Regions from separate parts of the Homo sapiens genome. Here region 1 is linked to region 2. The links come from fine-mapping of genetic effects on plasma protein levels. A gene starts in region 2. The other region holds a variant in brackets. All regions are shown on one strand. Distances are from middle to middle. Region 1 has its middle 15 kb from the start of CCDC126. Region 2 holds the start of CCDC126 (coiled-coil domain containing 126).

Region 1 (2,908 bases), 16 kb before region 2:
TGGGCAACAGAGCAAGACTGTCTCAAAAAATAAAATAAAATAAAATAAATCCCAGAACAATAGGTTAAATCTCCCAAGATGAAATTCGTAAGCATATTTAAGACGCTAATTTTTTTGCAAGGAAAAATAAGAATATCTTTCTTTCATTCTTTTTAACTTTTATCTTAGATTTGAAGATACATGTGCAGGTTTGTTACTTGGTTATATTGCATGATGCTGAGGTTTGTGGTATGATTGATCCCATCACCCAGGTTCTGAACATAGTACCCATGACAGTAATTTTTGAATCCAATTTTTCTTTTTATTATCTGTGACCTAGAACAAGTTATTTAAAATTTTAAAGCCTTACTTTCCTCATGTAACGGAATGTTAAAATAGGACTCTTCTCTCAGATCTTTCCTGGGTACGTAAAAACATTTAAGAAAAAAAATAAAATAAATATAGCTGGGTGTGGTGGCTGATGCCTGTAATCCCAACATTTTTGGAGGTGAAGGCAGGAGGATTCCCTGAGCCCAGGAGTACAAGACCAGCCTGGGCACTATGGAGAGAACCTGTCTACAAAAAATTAAAAAATTAGTTGAGCATTGTGGTGAGGGCCTGTGGCCTGGGTGACAGTGTGAGACCGTGTCTCTCTCCCTCCCTCCCTCTTTTTTTTTTTTCGATGAGGTCTCACCATGTTGCCCAGCCTGGTCTCGAACTCCTGAGCTCAAGCTATCCTCCCACCTTGGCCTCCCAAAGTGCTAGGATTACAGGCATGAGCCACCATGCCTGGTCAGACCCTGTCTCGAGAGGAAAAAAAAGCCCAGGCGCGGTGGCTCATGCCTGTAATCCCAACACTTTGGCAGGCCAAGATGGGAGGATTGCTTGAGCCCAGGAATTCAAGAATAGCCTGGGCAAGACAGTGAGACCCCTATCTCTACAAAAAATTAAAAAGAATTAGCCAGGCATGGTGGCATATGCATGTAGTCCCTGCTACTGGGGAGGCTGAAGTGGGAGAATCACTTAAACCTGGGAGATAGAGGCTGCGATGAGCTGTGATGGCATCACTGCACTCCAGCCTGAGTGACAGAGTGAGACTCTGTCTCTTAAAAAAAAAAAAAAAAAAGAGAGAGGGGGTCTCACAATGTTGCCCAGGTTGGATCTTGGATCTGAACTCTTGGGCTCAAATAATCCTCCTGTCTCAGCCTCCTGAGTAGCTGGGACTACAAGTGTGTGCCACTGTGCCCAGCAAAAATCAGACTTTTTATTATCTAAGAGTGACCAGATAAGTCACAGGGCTTGCTTCTAAAGCAAGCCATCCCTCTAGAGCAGCTTTGAATGAAAAGCGGAGAAAAGAAAGCCAGTTGTTTTTCCAAATACAACTGTGAGTCCCGCCTGTTCAGTGTATCAACTATATTCATTTCTTTTTTA[T/G]TTTTTTAAATTTCTTTTTCACCTATATTCATTTCTAATACAACATAATAATAGGGTTTATCTCCTAGGTTGTTGAGAAAGTAACAGAGATAATGCAAGTAAAATGCTCAGAACAGTGTTTGATACAAGGAATGAGGTCATCTTAGACCATCTAGCCCCAGTCAGACTGCCTGATGATTGCAGCGGCATAAGTGATTCCAAGTAAGACTGGCAGGAGAACCACACAGTCAAACTCAACCCAAATCACTGATCCTCAGAACTGAAAGGCCTTGGAGCCAGGTGTGGTGGCTCATGCCTGTAATCCTAGCACTTTGGGAGGCTGAGGCAGGAGGATCCCTTGAGCCCAGGAGTTCAAGACCAGTCTGGGCAACATAGGGAGACCCTGTCTCTTAAAAAAAAAAAAAAAAAAAAGAACCTGATAGACCTTGGAAAAGAGCAGATGCAGAGGGTGCATGAAGAGCAATTGTTCCTGAAAGTACGGTCCTAAAGGATAGGACTCAGGCCAAGAGGTAGATGGAAGAAAGATTTCTTTTCAATATACAGAAGAACTTTAAAAATGAAGTTTCCTGAAGATTAAATAAAGTTCCTTTGAAAGTAGTGAGTTTACTATCACTTGAGTGTTTTGTTTTGTTTTGTTTTAAGCTGGATGACCTTCAAATGTCAGGGATGGTGTAGAATGAATGAATTCAAGTCTTGTATGGGTCCCTTTACCCTTACAGTTTTTGGAACCTAAGAAAACTCTGCACATCAATTTGGCCTGGAAGTTTTGAAAATACTTTCCTTTTATTATTCACTATAGTAACAATTTTAACAGTTTTCTATGAGTTTACAGCAATAAAGATGATTCATTAGAAACGTCTGTCACAGCTATTCCTTTTTGTCCTTTTAGTTTATAAAATTGCAATTAGCCAAGTAAAATTACTTTATCCTTGGGATTTATCAAACACACATATATATACTTTTTTTTTTTTTTGATACAGAGTTTCACTCTTGTTGACCAGGATGGAGTGCAATGGCACAAGCTCAGCTCACTGCAACCTCTGCCTCCCGAGTTCAAGCGAATCTCCTGCCTCAGCCTCCTGAGTAGCTGGGGATTACAGGTGCCTGACACCATGCCCAGCTAATTTTTTGTATTTTTAGTAGAAACGGGGTTTCACCATGTTGGCCAGGCTGGTCTGGAACTCCTGATCCACCTGCCTCAGCCTCCCAGAGTGTTGGTATTACAGGCATAAGCAACGGTGCCCAGCCATATATATATATATATTATATATATATATATAATATATATATAATATATAAATATATAAAATATATATATGTATATATAATATATTTATATATTATATATAAATATTTATACATATATAAATATTAAATATATAGATATTTATACATTTATAAATATTTATATAACTATATATAAATATATATATTTATATATATATTTTAAGAGACAGGGTCTCATTCTGTTGCCCAGGCTGGTGTGTTATGGCACTAT
Region 2 (2,908 bases):
AATTGCACTGGCTCTGTAGGTAGGTTTGGAGAGACTTGGCATTTTTCAGTATTGACTCTTCCAATTTATGAACATGTTACATCTTTATTTAGGTCTTCTTCAGTGTCTTCCAATGTTTTCTTCAGGCAGGTTTTGCATTTCTTTGATCGATTTATTCCTAGGTACTTGATATTTGTTTGGAGCTGTTGGAAATGGTATCTTTAAAAAAATTATCTTTTTTACTAGCATATATAAATAAATATTGATTTTTTAAAATATGATTTTTGTATCTATTAACCTTGTTAAAAACTTTTATTGTTAACAGTTTATCTGCAGATTGTTTTGAAGTGCCACAAACAATTTTTTTTTTTTTTTGAGACGGAGTTCTGCTCTTGTTGCCCAGGCTGGAGTGCAGTGGCGCGATATCAGCTCACTGCAACCTCCGCCTCCTGGGTTCAAGCAATTCTCCCGCCTCAGCTCCCCGAGAGGCTGGAATTACAGGCGTCCGCCACCTCGCCCTGCTAAGTTCGTATCTGTAGTAGAGACGGGGTTTCACCATGTTGGCCAGGCTGGTCTCGAATTCCCGACCTCAGGTGATCCTCCCGTCTTGGCCTCACAAACTGCTGGGATTACAGGCATGAGCCAACGGCGCCCGGCCTCCACGTACATAATTACATAATCTATGAAAAAATAATTTTGTTTCTTCCTATTTAATCTTCAATCCTTTTATTTTTCTTGCCTCACTCCACTGGCTAAGGACCTTTGGCTTCAATAATGGGTAGTCTCATCTGTAGCACACTTAATCATCACTAAGCTTTCCCAGCCTCAGGTCAATAGTATTAGGAGGTTGGTTCCTCACCGGAGGGTCGGGAACAAGACGCCAGAGCCCTTCTTCCAGCGCCTGCAGCGAGTTAAGGCCGAGGGTATGCCTCTGGCGGGCTCATCTTCCAACACAGAAGACCCCGCCGCCCTCTCTGGTTGCCGCGCAGCTGCGTCGTTCTGACCCAGGGTAGGTGCAGGGCGGCTGGAAGCACGTGCCGCCGCTTCCTCATTCTGGGACTACATCCCCCACAATGCCGCGCGCCGCGGGCGGCTGGCCCCCGAGTGCGGGAAGGGCCGGCAGGGAGGCGGAGCGGAAGCCGAGTGCGAGGGACGAGCGGAGTAAAATCTCCACAAGCTGGGAACAAACCTCGTCCCAACTCCCACCCACCGGCGTTTCTCCAGCTCGATCTGGAGGCTGCTTCGCCAGTGTGGGACGCAGCTGACGCCCGCTTATTAGCTCTCGCTGCGTCGCCCCGGCTCAGAAGCTCCGTGGCGGCGGCGACCGTGACGAGAAGCCCACGGCCAGGTAATGAGTAAGGGGCGAGTCCGCCAGCCGGGCCCGCACCTCTCGCGCGCCCCTCAGCCTAGCCGGCCGCTCCTCCCCCGCCGCGCCCCCGTCCCCGGTCCCCGCCCCGCTAGGGCCGCTGCTGCGGAAACCCGGCTTAGGAACGGGCCGGCAGCCTCCGGCCGCGGCCGGGAAGGCTCTTTGTCCCTTCCTTTGGGCCGCGTCTCTGCCCCTCCGCGTCTGACAGCCGCGGCGCCTCGGCTCGGGCGGAGAGCCGAGCGTGGCTGGGGCTGCGCGAGTCGAGCGGGGCGGGCTTGGTCCGGAGCTGCGGGATGTAGATCCCGGGCGGCACCGCACTCACTTCTTTTTCTGTTTTTGACAGCTCAGTTCTCTTCTACTTTGGGAGAGAGAGAAAGTCAGATGCCCCTTTTAAACTCCCTCTTCAAAACTCATCTCCTGGGTGACTGGTAAGGATGAACTTAAACTGCCGTGTTGATTGTTGACTGTGACGGTAATGAGAATGGCTCAGCCAGCTAGGGTTCGAATCCTGCCTGGGTTTCTCTCACTGCCTGCCTTGGTGATCTTGGTTACTTAAAGGCTCTAAGCTTGAGTTTTCTCATCCATCAAAACACACACCTGTAAGTGGTTAGAATTAGGAATATAGACCTATAACGTCATTAGTTCTTCATTTGATGAAAAGATCCTTTGTGATACTTTCATTAGCTATGACTGAAGTGACCGAAGTGGCCTCTGGACTTGAGTTTTGTGCTTTTGTTTGTTTAATCATCCTGGGTTGTGTGTTCTTCACTTTATCTTAAACCTAACCAAAGGATTCATTAAAATATGCCGTCTTCCTAATTTTTGCTGTTTTAAGATGGCTGAGAATGTTCTTAGGAAATTGATGACTCTGCTTTTCTGTGGATCAGCTTCAGAGGTACAAGTATTCACCTCTCCCCTCCCCCTCAGGTGTGTCCTTTGGGAATCCTTAGAGGCGCTAAGTGTTTGTTTCGTCAGAGTAGGCATCCAGGTATTTTACAGTCCTGCCTCTGGGCTTCACCATATTTAACCTGGGTCAACTTTTTTCTACATCTGTCTGCATCTTCTCACTGATTAATAATTTCTCACTCTAAAATGTGTTGCAAAAATACTTGTTTTGAGGAAAATGTTTCTATGTTGGTGTTATTTAGTGCAGTGTAGGACAGAGAGTAATGGCTACGGAAATAGGAGTCCTTAGTTTTGTCCTTGCTCTGTCACTATCTGTGTAACCTGAGATTACTTTGTGGTCCTCAATGTCCTCATCTCTAAAATAGTGAATTGGTCTGATTCCAAGGACTCTTCTAGCTCAGACTTTCAATGATAAAGGTTTTTAGAGGTTTTTTTTTAAATGTGGAAACAAAATTTGTGTAAACCCTTTTAGTCATTTGTGTTCTTAGTGTTTCTTCCTGCTTCAGGTCATATAATTCTTTCAAACTACCTTGAAAGAAGGAATACATTTAAGAGAACAAGAAAGCTGCCAGAAATAAGAATCTCTACCAGCCAGTTATCACTCTCTCATGAGCTGCACAGTTTCTCTGCATTTTTGACATGCTTTGTTCTCTTTCT

What was found. A credible set is the group of variants that fine-mapping cannot tell apart. PIP is the chance, under the fine-mapping model, that this variant and not a neighbour inherited with it causes the effect. Protein levels are from the aptamer-based SomaScan assay of Sun 2018.
Region 1: its variant is the best candidate, but not a certain one, in a credible set for the plasma level of the CCDC126 protein (Sun 2018, PIP 0.54).

What each region holds. Positions count from the first base shown.
Region 1 is chr7:23,580,508-23,583,415 of GRCh38, forward strand. No RefSeq gene overlaps it. Among named protein-coding and RNA genes, the nearest start is that of CCDC126, 15 kb to the right of the region's middle. RefSeq lists a silencer at 455-646. The variant T/G (reference allele first, on the strand shown) is at 1,411.
Region 2 is chr7:23,596,279-23,599,186 of GRCh38, forward strand. CCDC126 (coiled-coil domain containing 126) reads left to right here and starts at 1,104. Exons shown (of 4, transcript NM_138771.4): 1 at 1,104-1,327; 2 at 1,689-1,773. LOC105375187 (a long non-coding RNA gene) reads right to left here and starts at 1,047. Exons shown (of 2, transcript XR_927098.2): 1 at 839-1,047. RefSeq lists a silencer at 1,346-1,585.